Regions from separate parts of the Homo sapiens genome. Here region 1 is linked to region 2. Evidence: fine-mapped expression QTL. A gene starts in region 2. The other region holds a variant in brackets. All regions are shown on one strand. Distances are between the middles of the regions.

Region 1 (14,604 bases), 64 kb before region 2:
AGGCAAACATCACTGACAACATAAGAGAAGTTATTTATTTTTAAACCAGCTTTGGAATCACCTGCCCCTGAAATAACTGGAAGAAAGAAAAAATATCAGAAATAGAAGATGGAACAGGCAGGGTGAAAGAAGTAAATGGACTACTGGACCATTCCAAGTCAAATGCGATAATTCTTTGAAGCCCGCAAATTTCAAGTGACAAGACAACTAAAATAGCTCTCGAAGTACAGAGGAAAATTCATTAGGGCAAACAGTCTAGTGTGTTAGTGTGTGTGTAAGAGTGTGTGTGTGTGTGTGTATGAGAGAGAGAGAGAGAGTGGAGGTATACTATTGCAATTAAAATACAAGAGTATAGGAGTGCTTATAGGCATACAACTATAGTGTATAGGTTATTCATAGACATAGGATGTGACACAGAATATCATGAAGGGAAAAATTCCTAAACAGTGCTAGATAGCTGGTGCTGAGGGGTAAATTTATAAAGTTGAATGAATATCCCTTGACTAAGGTTCACAAACATTACTAGAAAATGAGTTTATTCACAGAATGAACTAGATATGGTAATTTCAAAAGGCATCATCATTGTAATTTGTTCATTCATTTTAAAATATTTTACACAATCTAGCCAACTCTCAATTGCTCATCTAAAGATGAGCAGTAATGCAATGCAAACTTTCCAAATGTGGGTCTGGGAGACAGTGTGAATGATACTTATAATTAGATAGGCATACATATAAAATATGCCTTTCTAGTTATTTTTATATATGACACTAACTTTACGATAGGGGAAAGAAGCTGCCAATGCTGGTTGACATCTGAAACTGGCAGAATTCTGAAAACTGGCAATAAATGGTACACATCAAGAGAAACTCATGAGAATGAAAAGTTGACTGCCCTCTGCACTTACAATGTTTCTATTTTATTCCAATGGATTATACTGCCTAAGATTTATATAGTCTAAAAAGCCCATGGCTACAAAATGTATGTCAGGTAGGCAAGAATGTAAGAATATCAATGGTTAGAATTCTTATAAAGGTAAGAACTGCTGAGACATGTTGTCCCCAGTGCATTCCAATCTCTGTAAAAGTCACAAGGAGAGCAGAGTGCCTGACAGTCATTATTCTTCTGCACTTGACTGGAGGTTGGCATTATTAAGGTATCTTTCATTTGTGTTAATTAATGTATTTTTACACACATGAGGCAGTCCATTGATACACTGTACATTGGTGTATTCAGCTTGCTTTTACAATTTTTGGCTGCAGAATTATAACAAATTTTGGGAGCTTTTGGCCAAAAAATATGAAGGCTGACACATGCCTTTATTTTTGTTGGTTTCCAAGAGTTTCTGAGATATTTTTCTTCCAAAAGAATACTTTAATGGTAAACTCTCAATCTCAAAATTTATTATGGGTGATAAAAATCATTTTTTCACATTGAAATTTAAAATTAAAAAATTAAGATTTGCTGTAATTGTATAAATTTTATGAAATAAAATGTTAAATATGCAAATTTCTAAATCCACGTATAAATGATTACATGTTGTCATAGATGCCTTCCAATAATTTCATTATATCTCCTGAATATAATGTGTTTTTTCAGTCTTTTCTGAAAGAAATTGTGGATAAATAGGATCACGAAGATAATTAACTTAAATTTGAAAATAAAATTGGCTTTCTGTCACCTGATGCTACCTACACTATGTTGAGACCTATTGCTTCTTTGAAGGAAAAATATAGTTCAAATAAGATGGCACATATGTAAGATTGCATTATAAATTAACTTGGAATTCCTTTAAATAGGTACACTGAAAGTCAGTTTCACTATTTCTCCTTTTCATTAACTTCAGTGGAAGTAGTTTTCCAGAGTTATCTCATGTAATTATCCATAAGATCATTGAATATCTATGATTTATTTTATAAGCCTGTCACATTAAGGATTTATTAGAGCTCAGTAAAAATATATATGTGTGAATATATATATATATATACTTTTTAACCAGTGCACAACAATTAGAAATTAGCCCCTCATCTGTAAGTGGAAAATTTTATGTTCAAAATTAGCTGTCAGAACACTGTTCACATGAGTTCTCATTCTCTTAGTCAAAGAGTTTTGGAGGGGAAATGTACTTAGAGTACATTAGGAAGAAATATAATAGGGTCTTGAATAAAGGGCACATTGTGAAGACAGCAATTTAAAAAGAATCCACTCTTTTTTACATTTCTACGTCTTAATTGAGGAAACACATCTTTTCACAAGATTCCAAGAATTAAACAACATAGAAGAGTTCAAGTGTTCAGTTTACCAGCTCATCTGCCATTCCTTGCCTCCAAAATGCAAGGCCAATGATAGTTACTAAGACACATTTCTCTGAAATGAAAATCACTAGACAGGAAATACATTAATCATAAAATTTCCTGGAATCACTTAGTTGTGTGTGCCCGTTAAGAGTATGTTTGAATACTGACAGAGTTTCAGAGAAAAACAATGAAACAATCACTATGAGAGCTGAAATATGGCTTCATAGGAAAGAGGGCTACATTTAATTAGCTTTGACTGTGTCTTTTCTGCTTTTTGTTATAGTTCATAACACTGGCATGGACTTTTGAGCCAACCTTTTTCCAAACTGAGTTACTACTGAAATTTACAAACTTGACATGAAGATTACATTATATTTACAAACAACTTGGCACTTACAGAATAAATTATTGACATTTTAAAAATCCAGCCCAGGGCCCCCATGGTTCAGGCCAAGGAAAGCCTGATGCCTTGTTATATATTATGCTACATTAACATGAATAAGTCGGTTTCCAGCTGGTAATTCCTCTACAGTGTTGTCCCTGTTGCTGAAAACCAATACTTTCCATTTCTAATCCATGAAGGGGATGTAGAGAAGTTATTAGTCCAGAGAAAGCAATGGTTGCATGTTTTCTTCCTCATTTTTATCCATGCGTTTTAGTACTGTAGGATCCACTACTGATTGAGATCTGGAAAGGATAAAGCCAACGTCAGTGAGTTATTACCAGGTAATTGTGCAGATGACATTCTCTCCTCTTTTTGTCATTACTTCTCCCAGGAATGTGAATTCCCTTCCTCTATATCAAGAAATTTATGAATTGTGGATGTTGCACATTTAGAGAAAAACCACTGCTGGTGATGTTTTGCACTGGAGTGAGGAAAAAAATCCCCTCTGGCCTCTAAATAGAATAGTGAGCCGCCAATGATTCTAAATAGACAATACCAGGCTTAAGAGCTCTTCACAGTTAGGGAAGATTCTTTTCTTTGAGATATCACAAATTTCTAGTGTAGGATAGATGTTTTCCAATAAAACATCTCCAAATGGAAAAAAATTACAGTGAAATGATTATTATGATAAACTAAATAGAAATAACAGGAGGCTTAATTCCAGTCTTTAAAAAACATATGAAAAAAAAGCAACAAGAATGCACCTTTTTTGACCGTCATTTTTTAACTTTAATGATTGTATCAACCAAAAGATCAAAATTTGTATGTTTCTGTTAAATGTCCTAGTAGAATATCCAAATAAAATCAACCTTCATCTTGAGAATTTCATGGAACAGTTATAGATTTTTAAAAAGTAAAACCCCCTCTTGTTTAGGCAGCAACAGTTTATGATTAGGAAAGCACATAATTTGAAAACCCACTTATACATGCCTTTGATAGCAGGTGGGGCTTCTGTCTCAATTTGTCATTAGGAAACAATATGAGAATGGGAAAGAGGAAAATCAATGAAACATGCTCTGTCATGGCAGGAAGCTGCCATCTTAATAGCTGTAGCATTTAGTAAGCAGCTGCCCTTTTAGAATTCTCCTTGGTAATGAATTCTTCCCCTGCTGCTGCATTCCAGCCAATTGGCTTTTGCTGTGGCAATATGCCTCTTAGCAGACCTCATTAACTTCTGAAAAGACTATAAGCTAAAACACAACTGCACATGCAAATGAAAAAGAACAGCAACGGAACTAATTATCAAAGAAAAAATAATTACAGGATTAACTGATAAACTGATTAAATTTAAATAAACTTAAATTATTTCCTAAAGAGGGAATGAAAATGAAGGTGAAAGCATTAAAAAATTGAGAGATTTTGTTTCCTAAGTGTCATTTACACTATTTTATCTCAATATTAAATAGGCATTAGATGCCTATCATGGAAAAAAAAGACTTGCTAAAGTTGTGTGTGTGAGCGTAAGACAGAATAGATGAGGATATAAGATAATAATAGGATAAGATATGAATATAAGAATAGGATGAGGAAAAGGACAATAAGGAGAAAGAGTAGAGAGAATAGAGATTTTGTGTCACTTTTAAATGCAATAATACATAATCATCTTTATTTAAAGTACATGAATAAAATACTTTTTAACAAAGGAGACAATTGCACAAAAGACTAAGTAATTAGACTTCTAACTTTGTTTTTAGGTAAGACCCAACCAAGCAAATTGGCTCTCAGATGAATTCATGTTCAAAGAGAAAGAGGCTCATTTAATGTCCTGTGCTAAAGTATTAACCTGACAACTGATATGCACTAGACTGCAAGTTCCATAAGCAGGGACTTTATCAGTTTCTTTCCTTATTGTGAATACAACATGCATCATAGGGCTTGGAAAAGAGTAAGTTCTTCATGTCTTGACTTCTAGCCAGTAAATAATTTCCAAATTGAAAGAACTTCAGTATTAAGAACTCAAAATGAAGAGTAATGAGGATAATAAAGAAAGCAATTCTGTTTTCTTTATAGAAAATAAATTTTAAATTTTTCATAAAATTAAATATAT[A/TATATA]AATATTGAGGTATATCCTAATAATATTCCATAAGTACATACCAAAGCTCTTCAGACTGCACAAGGCACAATAGTTAAGCATTTGCCCTAATATACTATTACACATTATACAGACATGCTCACATATACACATTCTAAGTCTGTGTGTTTCCTGACTGTTTTTGAAAACAATATTAGAGAATATGACATTTTTAACAAAATATTTTAAATTACAGTGTATTATTCAAGCTGGGATTAAGTTTCTAGTTTGCTTTTAGTATGCACTACAGATATGAGGATTGTTGGATGATGAATGCTGATTCCATATGTGAAACAATGCCTCAATCACAGAACAAAAGTGAGTCAGAAACAATTTGTGATTAATTCTTTTTCTTTTTGGTATTTAGTTGTCCCAAGTGTATAGTTATTTTAGTCCAATTTTTTTTTAGTCTCTTTTATGACAGAACAGGATTATTTGTGCAGGATCAGAAGTATTAATGAATTGATTTATTCTAGCCACAGCAGAGGGAGCTATCATTAACTCATACATCTCAGAGGTTTCTGGGTTTTTTTTTTTCGGTTTTGTTTTGTTTGAGGCAAAGACTCACTGTGTCACCCAGGCTGGAGTGCAGTGGCACCATCTCGGCTCACCGCAACCTCCGCCTCCCGGGTTCAACTGATGCTCCCACCTCCCCCAAGTAGCCAGGATTACAAGCGTGCACCACCATGCCTGGCTAATTTTTGTATGTTTAGTAGAAATGAGGTTTCACCATGTTGACCAGGCTGGTCTCAAACTCCTGACCTCAAGTGATCCACCCGCTTTGGCCTCCCAAAGTGCTGGGATTACAGGCATGGGCCACTGTGCCCAGCCCATCTCAGGGGTTTCTATGCAGCTTCTATTGTTTTCACAATGAATAACTTTTCTTTCTTTCTTGAAAACTAGTAATTTAGATTTAGATATCCAATACTCATTTCTCATGCATCTACAATACATAGTGTTTAAGAAACTAGATTTCGGACAGAAGTAGATCATAACTCCAGTTGCTAATAACAGCAGTTTACTAGCTGTGTGATCATGGGAAGACTAAACTTCCTAAGATTTTGTTCTTTATTGTTTAAGATGGGAAAAATAATACCCACATCATAAAGTTATAATGAGTATCAGATGCAACAATGCATCCATAAACCCCGGCACAAATTCTGGCATATGGTTAATGAAATGGCTCATGGAATACTATTGCCTATGTACAGATATTAGCATTGCTACTTTGTAGTTATGCAACATGTGGAAGTCACTTACCTTTCCTGTTTCTCAGTCTCTCTATCAATAAAATGGGGATACTACTACTTTATTACTTGCTTCAAGAAGCAAATGAATCAACATACATAGAGCATTGGAACAGGGTTTGGCACAAAGCAATAATAAATGCTTAACCTTATTCAATAATAATATATTCAATATTCAATAATCAGAAGTGCGTATCATGAAATAGGTATGGTTACTTTACTCACTACTGTTATGTGCCAGGCACTATCTTAGGCATTGGCGGCATAAGGTAAAAGACACTCTCCAGTTCTAAAATACTTAGTCTAGTGAACTTTGCATATTTACACATGACTATGCTTCTCCTCCAGAAATTAATACAAAAAGACAAGTCATCTTTTTGCATGTCTAGCTACATTTACCCAAAAGAAGAATTATCCACAACTCTTTAGTGATGGAATTATTTTCTCCCTCTTAATCTAAAGATATCATAAAACTACAAAAAGAAAAGGGCCAAGGGGAATCAGTGTGGAACATAGGAGCAATCTTCTCTTGTCCTGGATGGCGAACTGCCATTCCCTGACATAGAGAACATGAGAATCAAGTGCAACACCTTTCTTAATCTCATTTTTCAGTTTTCCATAGAATCATAAATGTTTCATATGATACCAAACGTACACCAAACAATGCCTAAAACTCTAATCAGCCCATGACACCAGCAGGAAACTCAGGACTGGGGCCACTAATGGGCTACAAGCAAAGTGTGTAGGGGAGAAAATGGTCTATTTAATTGGAGAAAAGAATCAGGATACAAAAGGTGGATAGACTAGGCTATATCTAACAAGATGGGCCTTAATCAATTAAAATAATGTGATTGGAGGACAAACCTAAACAATAGGAGGATATGGATTGGTAAGTAAAGAGACTTTCCAGTTTTAGGAACCCCCATACCAGTCAGTTTTGGCTGCTTGAACAATAGCAACAGTGACAACAACAGCAACCCAAAGAAGCCAGTGAGGTCTATCCTGCAAAGCCAGAACTCTGCAACTTAAATGCAAGTGCCAATACCAGGTTAGATGTTCCCTATTCAGTTATGAATACTGCACTTAAAGGGGGCCACTGATGGGCAGCAGAGCACTCCTCCATGCATTCAACTGGTATTTCCTGAGCACCCTCTGTTTTTCCAGGACCTTCTCCAGGCACTGGGGATTCAGAGAATAAGGTAAACATAGACAATATGGTCTCCTTGAAGCTTACTTTGGGGTGGGGTGCAGATATAAAATTAAACAAAATCAGCAATTTCAAAGGCTAAAAGTGTTATGAAGAGAATAAAATAAAGAAGGGTGATGGACAGGGAGTGACCAGAATGAAGAGGAAACAGAACTGACTAAGACCAGGTGGGTGACAAAGATCAAAAGACTCTTTCGAGGAGCTGACCTTTGATTGGGACCACCCATTTGAAGATGAAGGAAAAGAACATTCCAGGTGGCGGTGACAAGGGCAAAAAGAGAAGACTAATGTGTCTGAAAAGCAGGGGAAGAGGAAGCAGACAGGATACACCTGGAGGAGAGAGGGAGGCAGGGTCAGATCAGGTAGCATCTTGTAAGCCATGATAAGGAGGTGATTGTATTCATTGTATAAATAGCAGTCATTAAAAATATAAAGCTAAGGCCTGCCTGGTGGCTCACACCTGTAATCCCAGTGCTTTGAGAGGCTGAGGCAGGTGGATCACTTGAGGCCAGGAGTTTGAGACCAGTCTGGGCAACATAGTGAGACCTGGTCTCTACAAAAAAATAAAAATAAAAAATTAACTAGTCATGGTGACAGGCACTTGTAGTCCCAGTTACTTGTGGAGCTGAGGTGGTAGCATTGCTTGAGTCCAGGGAGTTGGAGGCTGCAGTGAGCCATGATCACGCCACTGCGCTCCAGCCTGGGCAACACAAAGAGAACCTGCCTCAAAAAAACAAAAATAAAAATAAAAATAAAGCCAAGATGTGACATGGTCTGATTCATATTTTAAAAAGATTTTTGGATTGCCATGTGGATAATAAATTGGGAGTAGGGGAGCAGGTAAGGCTGGAATCAACAAGAACAGTTAAATAATTTTTAGGGGGTGGGTGCAGCTGAGCAGAGTGCAGGTGATGTGTAGAAGATACAGAGAAAAATGTGCTCACGTGATGGGCCACATGAGGAATCATGCCTCAGGCAGAATGGCTGAAGAAAAAGGGCCTCATTAGCTGACAAAGAAGAACACTAGTGGACACCGATGACAGCTGCCTCCAAATCCTTATGTAGTTCAGTTCTGAGAAAGGGCCTCTGTGCCACGAAGGGTAGGCAGGCTTTATGTCAGTGGTGTGAAAGACTCCACATCTCATGCAGTGGAGCCCTCTGCTCCACTATATATAGACTACCTAACGTTGAGGATGCAGTATCTGTTTAACACGGTTGTTGTGAGGATTTATAAATTAATGTAAAAAAAAGACACCTACTTCATGAAAAGTACCTAGTAAATGATAGATTATAACAACTGTTATCATTAGGATTATTTTATTAGAAGAAAACTATTTTAGGGGGAGTTGCTTTTAACCACTTTTGTTTTTAAAAACTTTCAAATAATTTGATGAAATATATGACTTCTCCCCAGAAAATATATGCATGACATATACATATAGTACATTCATACTTACGCACACAAAATTTTGCATACAACTTTTAGCACTTAACAGAATCCTTTGAGAGCCCATCCATGAACCCCTTAGGAGAGCAGAGATCTTGAGAAGTTCTGTTCTAAAAGAAGGGAGTTAAGAAGCCTAAAGTTGGTTTAAATATAAGCTTGCTAACTAGTGGAAAATTAGAGCAGGGAAAATTTCTGGCCTTTCCGTTCTCTCCAAGGAGTTGTGCAGCAGCCTGGAGAGAGGAAATCAATGCACACACATACTAACAACAATCACAACAGAGGCAGCAGCATAAAAGAGACCATCCTGGCCAGGCGCAATGGCTCACTCCTGTAATCCCAGTATTTTGGAGGCCGAGGCAGGTGGATCATGAGGTCAGGAGTTTGACACTAGCCTGGACAAGATGGTGAAACCCTGTCCCACTAAAAGTACAAAAATTAGCTGGGTGCAGTGTTGGGAGCCTGTAATCCCAGCTACTCCAGAGGCTGAGGCAGGAGAATCCCTTGAACTAGGGAGGTGGAGGTTGCAGTGAATCATGATCGCGCCATTGCACTCTAGCCTGGGAGACAGAGCTAGACTCATCTCAAAAAAAAAAAAAAAAAAAAAAAAAAAAAAAGAAGACCATCCTTAAAGAACAGGCACATTACTCCATGAGTCAGAGCTATGGGCAAAGGGCCTTAAGGCTTTCATCAGAGAAGGATGCCAGACATTGGCATGACCCGTTCATTGTCCTTGTATCCTCCCTGAGCTAGGTGAGGGGAGACTTGCAGGGGCTACGGTGCCCATACTTCTGTGAATGTGAAATGAACTGGAGAAGTAATATTTGTTACTGTTATCCAAATGGACCCTGAGCTGTGGTTGCCTGGGAAGTCTGAGAATTACACATCTACTTGTTTGTGACAGAATGCAAACTCAGAGCCAGGTATGCATTTGTGCAATGTCTGACAACTCCCCAGACTATTGATTGAAAGATAAAAGGCATAAAAGTGCTGTGAGAGTCAAAGCAGGTATTTGGACTCTGACTCAACAATGAACTCTATAAAGATTAAAACTGAAGTGAAATACAATGTTTTGTACCAGTAATGTTTAGACCTTTAGACAAAGACTTGGCAGAGATATTGAAAAAGGACCAGAAACTTTGAACACAGTGTTTGAACTGGTGTGTGTGGTTGCTTTCTTCAAAAGAAATCTTACACAGAAATCCAATAAATTGCTTATAGGAGAGTTGCTCCCACAACAGTGGAAATGGGCACTCTCTCTACTCCACCTACTTGGCCTAAGGCACCCCCTCAAAACCTTTGGTTTCTCAGGATACAATTTGAAAACCACCAGATTTGGTGACTTCCAAGGGCCCTGCTAGACTGTCTGTGAATTTGGAACAACACTAAGTTGAGGTTACCTCAAATTACTTTATCTTTTCCTTAATTGACAGATAATTGCATATAGTTATGGAATACAATGTGATGGAAAAATACTGCATGATTTCACTTATATGTGGAATCTAAAAAAAGTCGAACTCATAGAAATAGATAGTAGAATGGTGGTTACCAAGCACTGGGATGAGGCAGGATGGTTTGGGGGGGTGGATAGGGAGATATTCATCAAAAAGTACAAAGTTTCAATTAGACAGGAAGAATAAGTTTGGGAGATCTATCATACATCAGGGTTACTACAGTTTTCAAATATATGATAATAATGTATTGTATATTTGAAAACCGCTAAGAGAATAAATTTTAAATGTTCTCACTATAAGAAAATGACTTTATCTTTGACTCAAAACTCTTAGACATACAATCATAGGGCATAAAGAGTTTTAAAATCCCACCAGAAAAATGTATACAGAAAAACAGAAAGCTTTGAGTTTGACTCAGGATGCCTCTCCCTGCCCTGGCCCAGCCCACTCCCCAGTCTACCTCCAGCATACCTCTTCATGGACTTTGGGGAGAGTTCCTTCTCTACTTCCTTCACAGGCATGCTGTAGGAGTCTACATTGTACTCGCTGTCATCGTCATATTCATGGTCTAGCAGTGTTCTTGCCCATGTCCCCATGTCATAAGGAGGCAGCATTCCTCCAAACTCAGAGGGCAGGATCTCAGGATGAATTAGTTGGTGTAGACTGTTCAGGTTGTTACCATGCAAAAATATCTATAAATGCAAGAAGACGGGAGGAAGGGAAAGACACAGAGGAAACTAAATACCATCTAAATCCTACAGGGGGGATGTGAGGATAGCAATAGCAAATATGAGTTTCGCATGTCTGTTAAAGTACTTTAGCCAGTCATCTACTCTGTAAAACAGGCAGAGCTGGTACTGTTATCCTAATATATCATACCAAAATCCTGAGGCTCAGACACTTTAAGTAATTTCTGGAAGGTCAGAGAGTTATTGGGTAAAAGAGCTGCAACCACAAATTTGGTTTCCTTCTTCATAGGCAGGGACATGGGCAGAATAATACGTACATGCTGATCTGTACATCATCCTGGTGTTAGTTGTGCAAACTTGATGATGTGTATAATGAATGCTGTGAAAACAGACCCTTCTCATAAGGGACTCATCAATTACAGAGCCTATGCAAGTTATTACACCAAAAAGCTGTCACTTGCAAGGCTTTCTCTTTATCATCAATAAAAATAAGAATATTGTAACCACTAAATTACTGTTTTATAATGCAAAGTGGGTGATGTAAATAACCAAAGTAGATTAGCATCGTCATAATGAAAGGCTGAGTGAAGTTCATGTCCCAAAGGACATTATGTTCTGTAATGTTGCCAGTATCTTCTCTACTAAAGATTTCCATACTGACTGTCCAAATAGAAAAAGAAACAATGAATTAAAAATGTAAAGCTGTATGCATACCTTAATCATTTTGTCTATGATTATAGACAAAATGCTCTCCTCATTTTTCCTAAATGGAATCCAGTCTGGCTTTGTCTCTTACCACTGAATGAAAACAACTTTTGTCAAGGTCCTTCTCATTGCTAAATTCAGTATCCAATTCCCAGTCCTTATATATCTTTAACCCTCAGTAGCAATGGGTATAATAGATGACTCTGTTTATTGAAACATTTTCTTCATGCATTTCTGATTTTCTTCTACCATCCTAAATAGTGCTTTAAAAAAAAAAAAACTTGAGGCATATTCAAGCCACATACTCAAGATTTGTTTTTCCATAAACTGCTACCTTTGCTCTTCTTTCATTTCAGTTTCAAAACTACAGATTGGCCTTCTCTGCTACAACACTGTTGTCTCATCTACATTTATATAATATTTATTTCAAAATTATAGTAAGTCATAAAAATAATTTCATTCTTGAGTTCAAGAAGAATAAGCTAACACATTCATATTTGCTTTCTGTACCTTCAGAATCCACTGAAGTAAATACATTGGGAAACAAAGAAAGATTACTCTACAATATCAAATAAAATTAGAAGATGGTAGTTGCCACTTAATAAGCATTTTCAACAAATTATAGAAGAGTAAAAGCAGAAACAGCAGGTCACTGGCCAAAATAGGCAGAGCAAACAGCTGTCTGGAGTACATGACATGAGGCCCACAGGAGGTGGAAGAGGCCATCTGCCCCAAAGTACACCAGGTTAACTGCAAACTTTACACCTTCCCTCTCCTGTCTGAGGGCACAACAGCCAGTATTTATATCCAGGAAAACACATGTGCACCCCTGTGTTCTTCTTATAAGAAGAAATGAAAATAATTTTCCTGTGAAAGTTAAGTTATGGCACATGCAACCCTTATTTTATTAGATATATAACTTTTATTTTATCAAATGGGATCATTCACATAAGAAATCTTCTTCAACTCATGCAAGAGTCATGGTAATAAATCCTTGGAGCAGTCAGTGTAATCCTAGCACGCTACTTCCTCTCTCTTCTCTAACACTCTGTTGCCTCCTTCCGCAGCATCATTTTCCGCTTTGGCCTTGCTTCCACTTTCACTAAGAAAATAGGACAACCAGATGACATCAACCCACCCACCAGCATCTGTGTCTATGTATTTTGCCTTCACTGCTAGTACAATGAACAGATAAACCCTACAAAGGGCAACCTCTCCACCTGCGCACTAGAATTCGTCCTCTCTCCCCTACTCGGTTGTATTTCTTAACAGTTCTCTCCTATCTCTCACACATCCTCAGATTTCCTCTCTCTGCTGGATCTTTCCCATCAGAGAAAGAACATCCTGACTCCACGCCCCCCACACAGACACATAAAACCTCTCTCGGCCCTACTTCCATCTCCAGTTGCTTTCCTATTTCTCTCCTTCTCTTTATAGCAAAATTCACCCAAGGAATTGTCTATATTCATAGTCCAAATACTCTCCTCATTTTTCCTAAATGGAATCCAGTCTGGCTTTGTCTCTTACCACTGAATGAAAACAACTTTTGTCAAGGTCCTTCTCATTGCTAAATTCAGTATCCAATTCCCAGTCCTTATATATCTTTAACCCTCCGTAGCAATGGGTATAATAGATGACTCTGTTTATTGAAACATTTTCTTCATGCATTTCTGATTTTCTTCTACCATCCTAAATACTTCTTGGCAGTCTCTTTTGCTGATTGCCCTAATATCTTTTTTGTTTGTTTGTTTGTTTGCTTTTAGACAGAGTCTTACTCTGTCACCCAGGCTGGAGTGTAGTGCTGCGATCTCAGCTCACTGCAACCTCCGCCTCCTGGGTTCAAGCGATTCTCCTGCCTCAGCCTCTCGAGTAGCTGGGACTACAGGCGCGCCATCATGCCCCGTTAATTTTTTTGTATTTTAGTAGAGACGGGGTTTCACCATGTTAGCCAGGATGGTCTTGATCTCCTGACCTCATGATCCACTCGCCTTGGCCTCCCAAAGTGCTGGGATTACAGGCGCGAGCCACTGCGCCTGGCCTGATTTTCCTAATATTTTAACTGGAGAACTACTGGTCTCAGTCTTTGGATTTTTTCTCTTCTTTAACTATATTTTCTCATTGGTGATTTCTTTAAGTTCATTTTATTCAGTCAGTGGCTTTAAAATAATATCCCTGCACTAGAAATATATGTCTTGAATCCAGGCCCCTTTTTCAAACTCCATAACTGTATTTCCACTCTCCACTTAAAATATCCACTTAAATATTCAATGGCTGCTGCAAATTTAACGTGTTCAAAATTGGACTCATAATCTTCCCCCACCTCAAATATGCTCCTCCCTATCTCCAACATCAGTTAATGGTGTCACTATTCTTCCACTTTCTCAGACCAAAACTTTCAACTCAGCCCTTTACTCCCCTCATCATCTCAGTTGTCAGTAAATCTTTTTGGTGCTATCCTCAAAATGTATCCCAAATCCAATCATTCTGATTAGCTCTACCCCTACACCCATAACACAGCTACTATCCTTTCAGGTGTGCTCTTGCATGAGCCTCCTAACTGTCCTCTCTATATCCACTCTTCCACCTACACTCTATTCTCAACAGGGCAGCCAGAATGACCATGTCAAAATATAAGTCAGGTCATATCTTTCTCCTCACAATTCCCCATTGACTTCTTTCTCTTAGCATGAAACTATAAGGTCCTATAAGAATTACTTCTTTGAACCCATCTCCTTCTATGCACTTGCCTCAGAACATTTATAATGGATATTTCTTCTGTCTGGAGATTTCTACTCCCAAATGTCCTCATGGCTTGTTGACCTACATCCTGCACATCTCTTCTTAAAAGGCCCCTTGTCAGGAAGGCCTTCCTTGGTAAACCTATTTAATACTGTAACCCTGCCCAACCTGGGAAGCCTATCCACTTTCTATGTATCATGTTTCTTGACAGCACCTCCCAACTTCTAATATATCATATAATTTCCTTACTTAAATCATGCATATATTGTCTTGGCAATTCATTAAGTATAATGCTCTTATTTCTCCAAAGC
Region 2 (16,004 bases):
TTCATGTTACGATAATAGTGTAATAGCCACTTACTATAATAGTGAAATAGATGTACCTGCCCTCAGTAAAGTAAGAGAATTTAACATTTCCCACAGAAAGGAGGAGATGTATTAATTTACTAAGGATAACTTCTTAATATACTAACTATTGGCTCATGTTTTAAAATATCTTTAAACATTTCTTTTGAGGCATCCTTTCAGGACACCGTAGTAACCTCAAGTCCTTTGCTTCTCGACCTTCTTTAAAGTTGATTTTGAAACATGAAAATAGCTTGGCTCAGGCCAGCCTTAGTCAACGTCCTACTGAAGGTTGGCACTTGTAGTTTTTGCTGTTATTTCGGGATTATTTTACTAATTATTGCATAATTGCCCCAGTTTTTGGAGATTGTCCTATTTTTGCAGAGATTCATCACCATATTCCTCCAACATTTCTCAGGACAACTTTTTTTCCTCCCCTATTTGCCATGATATGTACCAAGATTATAGTTTGGAATAAGTTGCAGTTAGCAGAGGATTTGTTAAAAGAGTTTCCCTGAAAGGAAGCAAGATGGAAGCTCTGCTGGGAGAGAAGTCCCATGGAATACATATCTGCCATTTGTGGTTTTGCCCTAACCAGTATCCACCCAAAAGATGGCAAAGCCATGCCTCCAGAATTTTTACGAAAAGGACTCCTAGACTCCAGACTCTGCCAGTAGGTATGACAATGTGAAGCAAAAAGCTGGGAATTATTTAATATGTTAATAAACTGAGAAAAGAATTCTTGAAAAATTAAGCTGAAAAATTAAACTTCTTATTTTTTTGCTTTTTTTGTTGCAGAGTAAAAATATTTCTCCATAATTATCTGGATAATTGCCCTGGACTGTTTTAATCTATTCCTGTTCATTTTATTTTATTTTATTTTATTTTATTTTATTATTTTTAGTACAATTCCAGAGATGAGTAAAGCTTTGTGATTGGCATTAATGCCCATCTGTGTAGTCTATGGCTATGTTTTAAATTGTAAGTTATCATCACCATAACCTTCTATTCTGAACATTGGCCATATTATTTTAGTAAATGCAAGCATAATCATAATTCAAACTGAACCACAAATAGCAACCATTCATACAATGTTTGCTTTTGAATGAAAAAGCCACACAATAGGAGCAAACTGACAAGTTTTTTGGGCAAATTCCAGGATAAGTTAGAGTATCATATCAATGTCTGACCAATCAGTTTTCTGCCCCTTCCAGAGCTTCGCTACTGTAAGTGGTAATCAATGTCCACTATGATAAGCCAAAGACCATGCAAGGTGGCCAGTGCTTTCTGGATTGCCACCATATTAAGAATCATTTTGGTTCTAACTGTGTTTGTTTTCGAATGGCCATTAACTAGATTCCAGATAAATGGTTGTTTGCTATACTAAAGTTCAGAGAATTACTGAGAATTACTGTTTCTAATGACTATTAACCATATTCCAGATAAATGGTTGTTTGCTGTACTAAAGTATAGTGAAGTACATACTTCTAATGAGATCTAGAGAAATAAAATATGACTTGCAGGCTGACAACTTACAGGTGAACTCTGACACTTCCTATCATCATTATGTTTCAGGTGACACAATTTCACTCATGAATATCTCCAACAATTATGTGACAGTGGATTTCAACTTCCTAGATACATGCTTGCATGCTCTAGGACCTAGAATGCCATGTACTTTCTTTCCAAGCTTCCTTTTCTCCAGCAGTGTTAACCTCTGCTAGCTTTACGGCACATTATCCTCACACCTGTTGATAAGATCCTGCGAACCATTTGAAGGTATTTGCTGAGTCCTAAGCAGGTCACTACCATTTAGGAAGGAAAACAATATGCAATACATGGAGGACGAAGGCATCTTTGTGATGCAGTGTAACAGTCAAATAGTTTTTAATTCCATGGCATTTACTTTTGTTGTCAGAAATTATGTAAGGCAATCTAAAAGGAGATAAAATTATATGAATCTTTTCCAAGGTACAGCTCAATAAATGTAACAGGTCATCTGGGCTTGCCCTATTGTTTTTTGGAAGAACCACAGGCCACACTGCAACTCATTTTGACATTTGAGTATTTCCATTTTTTTTTAGATTTGTTAGAAGGTGGGTACACTGTAAATATTAGGATTTTATGTTAGTCTTCTTAATGATGCCATGTCTCTCAAAAAGGCTTTGGAAATCATCCAATTCTTTACAATAACCTAAAAGTAAACTACACTAAATTGCAGCAGAAACAGACACTATTTTATTTATAGTCACTGTCTCACACGGTTTTACTGTTTTCAGTGTCCTGAAGAGCACAGAAAACTGTCCTACAAATTTCATATAGGAGAAAGCGTATATCAAATAAATCTCTACTCAGAATTCTTTTTATACAAATGCATAACTCAATTCAACTCAAATATTTATTGAGCATCTACTCTAGTTCAAGTGCCGTACTAAATATAATAACATGACAGTCTTTTTGTTAGATCAATTCTATTGGGGGTCTTTACGAATTGTTTCAAAATTCATAAAATCTTGTTTTTCCTTTTGTAGTTGGAAAATTATAAATAACCTGTTTTCCAAATAAACTGAGGCATTTTCTTCCGCCTCATTTCTAGAATTTATCTATGTAATCATCTACACTTCTCACACACTGTTTCTTTAAAACAGGCTACTTTTTAAGAAAGTTGTTGAAAGCCAGGTGCTTCACTTAACAACTCAAAGAATGTTGCCAGGATTATTTTCAGACATGCAGTCTTCTGGAGAAATCCAGGTAGCTTTGGATTGGTGGGATCAGGGCCTGGAAGGTGAGAACATCTCACTCACAGAACAGGGGAGGGATGAGGGATAAGAGAAACTAGCACATGGCATTATCCACCTAACAGAGCAATAATAGTAACTTAAACACCTAGGGAAAGAGGCAGACTTCTGTAGGAGTCAAGGAGCCTTCGGGGTAGAGGAAAGGGACTCAGGCTAAGAAGTGTTGGTAACATCCTGGCATTGGCAGAAAGGCAGCTGTCCTTTGAGTTTCAGAGCAGGAGCCAAGGACGTTTTTATGCACATGCTCCAGTGATAAAGGTTTATAGAGGGTGCAAAGGTGACAGATCTGTTTGTCTACTAGTCCCTGTCATTGGGTTATGTAGATTTAGGATAAAAGGAAGGTGGGAAAGAAGAGGGAATTATTATTTTTTTAATATAGGAAGAAATTCAACTGAAATTTTGACTAAGCTCTAAATCACTTGTATACCTTTTCACCTTGAGGTGCGATAATTTCTTGATTATACCTGTTTATTTCCAACCATAGAAATAGAATTCATAATTACAAGTCTAGACATCTTGACAGGAAATTTCTACAGAACACAGCTTCTCATTTTGTTCTAATACACATTTTAGTATTTAAGATTATGTGTAAGTTTAATGAAATGTAATTCTATATACCAATTATTAACTCCGTTTCCATTATAGATTTCTAGGGAAAGAGAATTTGATTACTAGTTGTCTGCCCTTTATATGGAAGCATGAGATAGACAACTAAAACACAGTGTCTCTAATAAATTCAGAATTATCACTTTCTCATATATATGAAAACTATAAGTGACTTTCATCTTAATTAGGTTTACAAATAATTATGAATATTAGTTCACTTATAGAAATTCATGAAAATAGGTCTGATATATATGTATGCCTCTCTGAATGCAATCTGCCCCCATAATGGTATCTCTAACAGACTTCGAGATTTATATAAATATAAAATTTCCAGGTTCCATTTCACTATAGCTCAATTAACAAAGTTCCAATCTGACATACAGAATATTAGTTTTTTCCTTGAATAAAATTTTTCAGTTCTGTTATACACAGTCATTGATTTGCATGATCCTACAATGTACTTTTAGGATGAAAAGAAAACATTTTTAAACAAAAATTGTGGTCAATGAATAAAAAGTTGTAATTCTTTAAAATTTTCAGCTACCTGATAAAAAGTGGAATAACATCTCTATAACTGGCCAAAGTAAGTAACAAAACTCCATTCCCTCTGAATGGCTAACTCTGTATGAGTTTCTTAGCATTATGAATCTTCAGGTAGTAGTTTGTCTTTCTATTTGCCTAAAAAAATTGGAGTGATTGTCAACCTAGAATTACAGGGAAAAAAATCACAATAAAATGAGAGAAAAAATAATTAAAAATATTAATTTACATTCTAAGATACCAAGACTCGGAAGCCTATCTGGAAATCTCTATGATCCATAAGCCCTCTTGGTAACTGTAAATGTCTTGTACGATGGCTCCAGAGATGATTTAAACTAACCAGATGCATTGAAAGTCACCATTCACAGAACTAAAAATACACCAATGTTTTAACAAGCAGCTTCTTATGATTCATAGCTCTGGTAGCATTTTAAGTCCCATGAAATATATTTAACTTTGAACTTAATTGAAACTACCTTGCACAAGAGCCTTTTATAATTTCTTATATCTTTCAGTCTGAGAAAACAGTTCTGAAGGAGGACAGAGAAGTGTCATTGCCTGCATTTTTCTATAATAATGTAGATAAAAAGAATATTATTTCTTCTCTATTAAGTAGCACATGAGCTCAAAAAGTCCACCAACTGACACATCTGAATATTTTCCACTTCCTTCCAAAAGATGAAAAATCACATGAGACAGGAGACAGATTCTTTAGATTAGTGGCAGGTGTAGGACACATACACCAGTCAGTGTACATTTTCAGTGTCAGCAGGCATGCTCAGCGACAGAGGATGCAACTCTTCCTTTCACTGAAGGGACACAAATCATATTATTCCTTCTTCTACACATCACCAAACAGAGAACTTCCCAAGCAACAAAACTACTTGCTTTTGGTCGAACGCCAGGCTATGCTTAAAAGATAAAACGTCAGTACCAAAGAGAGGATGATGATGATGATGATGACAATGATGATGGGTCTAGTTTAAGAATTTTTTTAGGAAGAAGGAGGAAAAGTTGTCCCCATTTTCTTACTGGTTTATCCAGCCCAATAAACTTTTTCAGAAGGTGAAACATACAGAGAAGCTTTATTTACAAGTTAAGTGATTTAGATCTCTGTGCAATAACGTGGTTAAGGTAGCACCTTAAAGCTGCAGTAGAAAGTGGGTGTTAGTGAAGTAAGTTTTAAAAGTAAAAATACAAGCCCTCCTCCCTTCCCAGGGTGCCCACCAAAAACTCATCTCCTGGTTTGTTTCTCTTTTCTCCAAGCCAAATAAACAAAAATATCAAATCTACAAAACCATGACACTACTCGGGGTAAATTCTGGAAAATGGGAGAGTAAAAGGAGAATACAAGTTTGGATTTAGGATTTACCTGCTCTGATCCCAATTGGCAGCAAAAAGGACTAGAATCTTCCTGCCATAGTGGTCCAGATTGGCCAGGCCCCCAGGGAAGCCATCCTTCAGTGCCTGCTTGATGCCAGGGTCGGTGGCCTTAAAGCTTTTGAACATGTCCAGGTTCTGCTGCCGGTACTCAAAGTACTGCGCCAGGAGGCGGAAGGCCTCAAAGTGATGAAACTTCCTAGCCCGCAAGAAGCGTAAGATGAAGGCATCATCCGTGCGCAGAAAGCCAATGTCCGGCCTGGTGATGACCATATCCCTCACCTCCTGGATGTCCTGGTGCAGCGTGTCTGGGTTTTCATTGAGCTCCAGGCGAGCTTTCTCCAGGGTCTCAGGGGAGAGACCGGCTTGCAAATGAGTCATTGTTCTGCCTATCTCTGAGCTTTCCCTCAGAAGACCTTGTTGACTGTCCCAAAGCAAACCTGGTCCTTGCCACCACCAGACTCCAGCCCCCAGACCTCCTGCTGCCTGCTTCCTCTCCCCTACAGGAAATTAATAATCTTGGTGTCCAATCAAGTGCCCTGTTGCTCCTGCTTTCCCCCAGCAAAGCTGGGGGGGCCGGGGGGTGTAAACTTCTTCCTCTGCCCCCTAAAATACAACACCCTACTTTGGCTCCCTCTTTCCTTTCCTTTAAAGAGATGTGAACCCCTGAAGGGCTCCGCACTCCTCTTCTTGTCCTTTCTCTTTCCTAACAAATCACCCCTAATTCCACCTAGCACGGGTGTTTCTGATCTTGGTACTGTCCTCTTCTCTTCTCTTCCAAGATGTAACAAAAACAACCCCCACGCACATCTCAGCCCCTGCACTGTGAATGTTCCTGCGGTCCCTGCTGAAGGATACGCCTGCCAGGGGTGGCGATGGAAATTCTGATTAATAATAAGGTAGCTCTTCAGCGCTGAGCTCCAGGGCGGAGAGAGATCATCTTTGCCAGAAAGAAAAAGAGACAGAGAGAAAGAGGGGGGAGAAAGGAGATTATTTCTCCCTGTACTTATTCAAAGACGCTATTTTTAAAAGACAAATTTGTGTGATTTATTTAAGATTATTGTGATCCAATTAGGTGAAGACTCTGCAGATAGCGCACCTTCCCACCACCCCTCTGAGATACACCGTGATCTCATAAGGCACCAGCAGGGGTTCTGGTGGCGTTGGTACCAGCGTGGGCTCCCCCAACCCCACCCCCAACTTCTGCCTTCCTCTAGCCCTTCATTTCCACGGACTTGCCGCGGGGTTGGAGAAAAGGGGGGAGGGGGAGGGAGGGGACCGGGGATATCTCTGGGAATGCACATTTCAAAAACGAAGAGAAGGGGAGGACGTTGTGAAGAATAAAATAAAAATGTCCTTATCTTTTCTATAAAACCCCAAAGCAAGAAAGAAGAAAGAGCAGCCGCTCCTACCAGCAAACCCAGAGGCGGGGTCGCTAAGCAATGCGGCACTCCCTGGCATCCATCAGCCGCGGCTTCAGCAGCGGCGGCGGCGGCGACAGCGGCATCAACTCCTCTGGGCGGGATGGAAGGAGCAGAGAAGAGGGGTGGCGGCGGGGACCCGGGCCGAAGATGCGCTCGGGAGCAGCCGCGGCCACATCGTCCGCGGGCAGCCCGCAGCCTCTCCTAGCAGGAGGGGTGAGGATCGCAGGGCTAGGGCCACCGCTGTCCCAGGTTCTCGCCTGGCCCTGCCATTTTCGCCTTCGGGAGAGAAGGTGGGGAGGAGGACGCGAACGCCTGGATGGAGAAGGCCACTCGGGCGGCCACCGCCTTTGTGAGCCCTCCGGGAGCAGCCGGGGAGGTGGGCGCAGCGGGGCGGCTGCTGCGCGGCGCTGGCCTCTCCTGGGGCTCTCCCGAGCGGTCCGAGTCAGGGTTGCCCCACCGGGCTGCGGCGGCGGCTCCGGCTGCTGCTGCTGAAAGAGGACTCGGCTCAGCCCAACTCCTCTCTAATTATCCCAGCACAGATCTCGCTGCGACGTAAGCACTCACTCAGCTCGCGCGCGCGCTCCGCTCCTTTCCCTGCCTCGTTGGGGTAGGACGGCAATTTGGGTGGCATCGAAATATCCCGAGCCCTAAGTTTAGGCTGCTCTTCGTCCCCACTCCTCAGCAGGCTGCTGAGCGGGCGTCGCCGGGCCAGGCGGGGCAACCATGCTTTCCAGCCTCCCCACGCCCCTCTCTTCGCCCTTTGTGTGCAAGACCCCAGATCAGCCTGGAGAGTAGCTGTTGTAGACGGTAATTCACATTGACACGCATTTTCTCGTTCCTGTAGGAGGCAATTTTGATGTAGAAGGAGTACGGAAACATTCTGTACTTTTCGCATTTGTTGTAGACAGAGATATTTAATTTAGAAAACACCAGAGTGGTTCCAAGACAATGTACTGATGATTAAGCCTCCGGAGGAACTTATATGAATAGTTTTTCAACCAGTCTCCCTGCTAAATTTCTGTTGAAGAGGATGAAAATGAGCACTAGGGTAAATGATAATAAAAACATAATTCTCAAAGGAAGAAAAAAATAGGAACTTCACTCATATCTCATCATAAAGCAAATATTTCTGGAAACACATACCATCCTTCCTTCAGTTGTATGCATCTGTATATGAGAATCATTATAAATAAACAGAAGTCCTTGCGCTTAATATGACTATCTATGGATTTGAGGAAAAGGGATATTTTCTATTTTCAAAACACAGCACATATTACTGAGCGTGTTACTAAGAGCAACTTTTGACTTTATAAACTGTAGAATGGGGTCTTGAATTGAAGTTAATTCAATGCAACTAATATTTACTGAGTTCCACGAGGTGTGGGGCATTTTTCTGCATTCTGTGTATAGGAGGTGGTCTTGAAGATAAGCAAATTTTGTCATTTTCTTATCTTGACATTTCTTATCTTGTCATTTTCAATGTTGATGACTATGAGAACCCTCAAAATACAGGCACACTTGTTTTTGCTCTTCTCATGGCGATGGTGTTGATAAAAAGAAAGAAGGAAAAGGGTTGTATGGTAGAGCTAGAGCATTTATTAATTAAATTAATGCAAATTAATGTAGGAACCCGAATAAGACAATAAATTACACACACACACACACACACACACACAGTCATTATTGTCAAGGAATTTATGTTTTAAATGGGGAAGGCAGAAAATAAACCACTTAAGTGTGTGTATATGTGTGTTATATATATGCACTATATATAAGGTCCTTCTAGGATTTTAAGTGATTATGACTTTCTCAAGCATGCTGAATGCAATGTGAACTGTTAAATTTTTGGTTCTCATTTTAAAACATTTGAAAAAATCATTTTTTCTAATATTTTAGAGGTTGAAGAAAATTTATGTTTCGTATCAACTGTATGAAGAAGTTTTAGTCATCACCAACATGGAGAGACAATTCTCCCTGGATCCGTTGTGTTTCTACCTGTCTTATGACCAAGGCACTAATTGCCCTTTTTTCTAGACTGTCTTCTCAAGGGTATTTGTACAGTAAATAGTCTTGGAAGATATTGGAAGATAGAGATAGTACCTCCATCTGAAACAAAGCCTTGAAAGCTGTGATATCTCTCTCCTGACCAAAAGGTAGGCAAGCTTATTTGAATTCCCTAAACTCAGAGCTATTCTGCTGTAATGCCACCCATTGTTTATGCCAGTATCACTTGATCCTCTTTTCTTAGCTATCTGTGGGAATTAGAGCTCAGGGGACCAGTCAATGCAAGATATGCAGATGCTCATACTGCCCGCTATGCCTGAGTGACAAAATCCTTTATCTCGAAGCCAAGAGTTTTGCATCTTCCATCGGCATCCATGAAACTACAGCCAGCTAACTTGTTAGCCTGTAAGTGAAGTTAAAATTCAGATCTTTCACCTTGATGAAAAAACAGTTGTTTAATTTTGTTCTCTGAGATGGACATATTAGACTATATTTTTAAGGGAATTTATAAAATAAAATGTATTTTTTGGCCCAGCATATGTTATGACCAGTATTGAAGGTTGAAGGATGACATTTTTATTATTTATTATTTACCAATAACAGAATTGCTTCAAATAGATTTATTTTAACATATCTACATATGATAGAAATAGTCTCTATCACCCAGTAGGATTGTTGGAGCAGGTCAGTTAGGTATATATAAGATTTTTAAATCATATTTACAAAACTTTAGTGATTATACTGTTATTCTCTCTCTACTTATACATTTGAACTCAGTTCTGAAACCAAAATGAATACACGAAGCCATCTAAAATTAAACAAGGTGTTTATTCAGATGACATCAGAGCATTTGATTTTCATTCAATATTAATCTACCTTGCCAAATTAATGCAAAGTAATGTAGGAACTGGAATATGAGAATAAATTATCTAAACAAAAGTATTAATTAAAGCATTATTGGAAAAATAATTAAATCAAGGACTTCAGGTGTTTTCAAGTAACTAGAAAGAAAAGTTTGGTTTACTGCTATATTTAAAATGAGTAGAGTAAGTACTTTATGTTTTAAAACATTTTATTCCCTTTATTGTTAAATAAAATATATGCACAAAAAGGAGCACAAAATAAAGATGTACGGCTCAATTCTATCTTACAAGGGAAACACACATGTAAGTGTCCAACCAGGTTAAGAAACCAAGCATTGTCAGTAGCCAGAAAGCCCCCTCCCATTCCCCTCCTAACTACTGGCCTCTTTCCAACAAAGGAAGCCACACTGTCTTTATTTTAAAAGTAATCCTTGTTTGTTTTTTTTAAATTTTACCAACTAAATAACTACAATTTTGTTTTTCTGTTTCTGAACTTAAATGTAATCATTTATATGTAATGTTATGATTGACCTCTTTCATTCAATATTAAATTTGTGTGATTTGTCTTTGTCAGTGTTGTTGTATGTAGCAGCTCCCTCATATTCAGTAATGGTGCATAAAATTGCATTTCTTTTTTTCCTGAGACGGAGTCTCCCTCTGTCACCCAGGCTGGAGTGCAATGGGGTGATCCTGGCTCACTGCAACCTGCGCCTCCCAGGTTCAAGTGATTCTCCTGCCTCAGCCTCCTGAGTAGCTGGAATTACAGGCACACGCCACCACTCCTGGCTAATTTTTGTATTTTTCGTAGAGACAGGGTTTAACCATGTTGGTTAGGCTAGTTATGAACTCCTGACTTCATGATCTTCCAGCCTCGGCCTCCCAAAGTGCTGGGATTACAGGCATGAGCCACCGCACCCAGCCGTAGAATTTCATTTTTATACACCTACTACAATATGTGTGTCATTCTACTGTGGAGGGAAATTTGGGTTGTTTTCAGTTTGGAGCTCTTATGAACCATGATGTATGAAGATTCTGGCACATGTCTTTTGGTGCACATGGAGAGACCTAGGAATGAAAATTTCTGGGTCATATGTAATGTGCATCTCCAAATTTAGTAAATAATGCCAAACTGTTTTCCAAATGGTTGTTTCACCAACCCCCAGCAATATATGAGTGTTCTTACTGTGCCATGTTCTCAGAAATCTTATTATTGTCTATAATTTTAACTTTATCCATTCTGATTTTGAACAAGGGTATTGTATTATGGTTTTGGTATGCTTTCCCATCACTACTAATGAGGTTAAACTTTCACGTTTTTTGGGCCATTTGTACATTATTTGTGTGAAGTGTCATTTCAGAGATTTTGCTGATGTTTATAGTGGGGTGTTGATTGCTTTAATATTGAATTGTAGAGCTTCTTTATAGATTCTGAATATAAACCCTTTGTCAGCTGCACATGTTGTGAATATCTTCTCCATGTCCATGGCTTGTTTCTTTCACTCTCTTAGCCCTGTCTCTTAATCAACATAATTTTAAATTTTTAGGTAATTCAGTTTTTCTCCTATGAATAGTGCTTTTTAGGTCCTGCTTAGAATATCCCATAATTACTCAGATATTTATTCTCCAGTTTACTGTCTAGAAATTTTATTGTTGTTGCCTTTCACATTTAGACTTGCAATTCACCAGATTGTATTTTGCTCATAATGTGAGAAATAGGTCAAGTAATTTTTTTCTATGTGAATAACCTGTTTACTCAGTACCATTTACGGAGACTATCAAAAAGATCATCTTTTTTTCCCTACTAGACAGCGCAACTGTTGTCACACAAAAATAATTTTTCACATGCGAGTAGATTGTGATTTAATGTAAATTTTAAACTCCACCTTTTTTTATACAACCAATATTCCTCAGTGGTTCCCAAAATGTGGGTCCCAGACCAGCAGCATTAGAATTACCTGAGAACTTGTTAGAAATGTAAACTCCCATGCCTGACATATTGAATCAGAAATCCTCCCTAAAATTCAGAGACTCACAAAGTTTTCTGCTCAGTCCTTTGAATGATTCTAATTTACACTGAAATTTGAGAATCAATGCTTTAGATTTAACCCCATATGTATCCTTTTTACTCTTCTTTATTCCTTCCCGTATCTCTGAGTTTCCATATAGTAGTGATTTGTTTGTTTTTTCACTTGAACACATTATAATGTGTCCTTTAGTACAGATCTGAGGGTTGTAAATTATTTGTTTTATTTGTCTGAAAGTTATTTTACTTTTACTCTAAAAACATATTTGTAAGCTATAGGATTCTAAATTAGCAGCTGTTTCCTTTCAATACTTTAAATATTTTTTTTCTTTTTCTCTGGCTTGTCTTATTTCTGTAGTCAAGTTAACTCAATTTTTTCATTATTCCTTTGAAAGTAATCTCTTATTTGTCTCTGCCTGATTTTATTTTCTCTTCTCATCTTTAATTTTCAGCATATTTCTGATGAGCTTTTTTTCATGTTTTTTGGCCACATAAATGTCTTCTTTTGAGAAGTGGCTGTTGATATCCTGTGCCCACTTTTTCATGGGGTTGTTTTTTCCTTATAAATTTGTTTAAGTTCCTTGTAGATTCTGGATATTAGCCCTTTGTCAGATGGATAGACTGCAAAAATTTTCTCCCATTCTGTAGGTTGCCTGTTCACTCTGATGATAGTTTCTTTTGCTGTGCAGAAGCTCTTTAGTTTAATTAGATCTCACTTGTCAATTTTGGCTTTTGTTGCCATTGCTTTTGGTGTTTTAGTCATGAAGTCTTTGCCCATTCCTATGTCTGTAGATGTGTGGTGTTATTTCTGAGGGCTCTGTTCTGTTCCATTGATCTGTATATCTGTTTTGGTACTGGTATCATGCTGTTTTGGTTACTGTAGCCTTGTAGTATAGTTTGAAGTCAGGTAGCATGATGCCTCCAGCTTTGTTCTTTTTGCTTAGGATTGTCTTGGTTATATGGGCTCTTTTTTGGTTCCCCATGAAATTTAAAGTAGTTTTTGTAATTCTGTGAAGAAAGTCAATGATAGCTTGATGGGGATAGCATTGAATCTATAAATTACTTTGGGAAATATGGTCGTTTTCACGGTATTGATTATTCCTATCCATGAGCATAAAATGTTTTTTCATTTGTTTGTGTCCTCTCTTATTTCCTTGATCTGTGGTTTGTAGTTCTCCTTGAAGAGGTCCTTCACATCCCTTGTAAGTTGTATTTCTAGTTATTTTATTCTCTTTGGAGCAATTGTGAATGGGAGTTCACTCATGATTTGGCTCTCTGTCTATTTTGGTGTATAGGTACTCTTGTGATTTTTTGCACATTGATTTTGTATCCTGAGACTTTGCTGAAGTTGCTTATCAGCCTAAGGAGATTTTAGACTGAGACGCTGGGGTTTTCTAAATATACAATTATGTCATCTGCAAACAGAGACAATTTGACTTCCTCCCTTCCTATTTGAGTGTCCTTTACTTCTTTTTCTTGCCTAATTGCCCTGGCCAGAACTTCCAATAGTATGTTGAATAGGAGTGGTAAGAGAGAGCATCCTTGTCTTGTGCCAGTTTTCAAAGGGAATGCTTCCAGCTTTTGCCCATTCAATATATTGGCTGTGGGTTTGTCAAAAATAGCTGTTATTATTTTGAGATACATTCCGTCAATACCTAGTTTATTGAGAGTTTTTAGCATGAAGCGGTGTTGAACTTTATCGAAGGCCTTTTCTGCATCTATTGAGATAATCATGTGTTTTTTGTCATTGGTTCTGTTTATGTGATGGATTACATTTATTGATTTGTGTATGTTGAACCAGCCTTGCATCCCAGGGATGAAGCCAACTTGATCATGGTGAATAAGCTTTTTGATGTGCTGCTGGATTCGATTTGTCAGTATTTTAATGAGGATTTTTTCATTGACGTTCTTCAGGGATATTTCCCTGAAGTTTTCTTTTTGTTGTTGTTGTTGTGTCTCTGCCAGGTTTTGGTATCAGGATGATGCGGCCTCATAAAATGAGACAGGGAGGAGTCCCTCTTTTTCTATTGTTTGGAACAGTTTCAGAAGGAACGGTACCAGCTCCTCTTTGTAACTCTGGTAGAATTCGGCTTGAACCCATCTGGTCCTGGGCTTTTTTTGTTTGGTAGGATATTAATTACTGCCTCAATTTCAGAACCGATTATTGGTCTATTCAGGGATTCAGCTTCTTCCTGGTTTAGTCTTGGGAGGCTGTATGTATCCAGGAATTTATCCATTTCTTCTAGAATTTCTAGTTTATTTGAGTAGAGGTGTTTATAGTATTCCCTGATGGTAGTTTGTACTTCTGTGGGATCAGTGGTGATCGCCCCTTTATCATTTTTTATTGTGTCTATTTGGTTCTTCTCTCTTTTCTTCTTTATTAGTATGGCTAGCAGTCTATCTGTTTTGTTAATCTTTTCAAAAAACCAGCTCCTGGATTCATTGATTTTTTAAAGGGTTTTTCGTGTCTCTGTCTCCTTCAGTTCTGCTCTGATCTTAGTTATTTCTTGTCTTCTGCTAGCTTTTCAGTTTGTTTGCTCTTGCTTCTCTAGTTCCTTTAATTGTGATGTTAGGGTGTTGACTTTAGATCTTTCCCACTTTCTCCTGTGGGCATTTAGTGCTATAAATTTCCCTCTATACTCTGCTTTAGCTGTGTCTCAGAGATTCTAGTATATTGGTTCTTTGTTCTCATTGGTTTCAAAGAACTTATTTATTTCTGCCTTAATTTTGTTATTTACCCAGTAGTCATTCAGGAGTAGGTTGTTCAGTTTCCATGTAGTTATGTGGTTTTGAGTGAGTTTCTTAATCCTGAGTACTAATTTGATTGCACTGTGGTCTGAGAGACTGTTTGTTATGATTTCTGTTCTTTTGCATTTGCTGAGGAGTGTTTCACTTCCAATTATGTGGTCAATTTTATAATAAGTGCGATGTGGTGCTGAGAAGAACGTAAGTTCTATTGATTTGGGGTGGAGAGTTCTGTAAATGTCTATTAGGTTCTCTTGGTCCAGAGCTGGGTTCAAGTCCTGAATATCCTTGTTAATTTTCTGTCTCGTTGATCTGTCTCATATTGACAGTGGGGTGTTAATGTCTCCCACTATTATTGTGTGGGAGTCTAAGTGTCTTTGTAGGTCTCTAAGAACTTGCTTTATGAATCTGAGTGCTTCTGTATTGGTTGCATATATATTTAGGATAGTTAGCTCTTCTTGTTGCATTGGTCCCATTCCCATTATGTAATGCCCTTATTTGTTTTTTTTTAATCTTTGTTGGTTTAAAGTCTATTTTATCAGAGACTATGATTGCAACCCCTGATTTTTTTTTTCTTTCCATCTGCTTGGTAAATATTCCTCCATCCCTTTATTTTGAGCCTATGTGTGTCTTTGCATGCGAGATGGGTCTCGTGAATACAGCACACCGATCAGACTTGACTCTTTATCCAATTTTCTAGTCTGTGTCTTTTAATTGGGGCATTTAGCCCACTTATATTTAAGGTTAGTATTGTTATGCGTGAATTTGATCCTGTCATTATGATGGTAGCTGGTTATTTTGCCCATTAGTTGATGTAGTTTCTTCATAGTGTCACATGGTGTTTACAATTTGGTATGTTTTTGCAGTGGCTGGTACCAGTTTTTCCTTTCCATATTTAGTGCTTCCTTCAGAAGCTCTTGTAATGCAGGCCTGGGGGTAAAAAACCTCTCAGCATTTGCTTGTCTGTAAGAGATTTTATTTCTCCTTTGCTTATGAAGCTTAGTCTGGCTGGATATGAAATTCTGGGTTGAAAATTCTTTTCTTTAAGAATGTTGAATATTGGCCCCCACTCTCTTCTGGCTTGTAGGGTTTCTGCAGAGAGATCTGCTGTTAGTCTGATGGGCTTCCCTTTGTGGATATGCCAATTTTTCTCTCTGGCTGCCCTTAACATTTTTTCTTTCATTTCAACATTGGTGAATCTGATGATTATGTGTCTTGCGGTTGCTCTTCTTGAGGAGTATCTTTGTGGTGTTCTCTATATTTCCTGACTTTGAATGTTGGCCTGTCTTGCTAGGTTGGGGAAGTTCTCCTGGATAATTTCCTGAAGAGTGTTTTCCAACTTGGTTTCGTTCTCCACGTCACTTCCAGGTACACCAATCAAACGTAGGTTTGGTCTTTTCACACAGTCCCATATTTCCTGGAGGCTTTGTTCATTCCTTTTCATTCTTTCCTCTCTAATCTTGTCTTCATGCTTTACTTCATTAAGTTGATCTTCAGTCTCTGATATCCTTTCTTCTGCTTGATCGATTTGGCTATTAATACTTGTGTATGCTTCACGAAGTTCTCGTGCTGTGTTTTTCAGCTCCATCAGGTCACTTATGTT

What was found. PIP is the estimated chance that this variant, and not a neighbour inherited with it, causes the effect.
Region 1: its variant is the best candidate, but not a certain one, in a credible set for the expression of CLVS2 in sigmoid colon (GTEx, PIP 0.81).

Annotation. Positions count from the first base shown.
Region 1 is chr6:123,052,054-123,066,657 of GRCh38, reverse strand. It overlaps CLVS2 (clavesin 2), which reads right to left. Exons shown (of 6, transcript NM_001010852.4): 5 at 10,632-10,852; 6 at 1-2,984. The coding sequence ends at 2,897. Among named protein-coding and RNA genes, the nearest start is that of CLVS2, 63 kb to the right of the region's middle. The variant A/TATATA (reference allele first, on the strand shown) is at 4,790.
Region 2 is chr6:122,987,497-123,003,500 of GRCh38, reverse strand. CLVS2 (clavesin 2) reads right to left here and starts at 7,266. Exons shown (of 6, transcript NM_001010852.4): 1 at 6,755-7,266; 2 at 5,335-6,282. The coding sequence starts at 5,723. LOC124901392 (a long non-coding RNA gene) reads left to right here and starts at 8,581. Exons shown (of 2, transcript XR_007059733.1): 1 at 8,581-8,919; 2 at 9,015-10,206.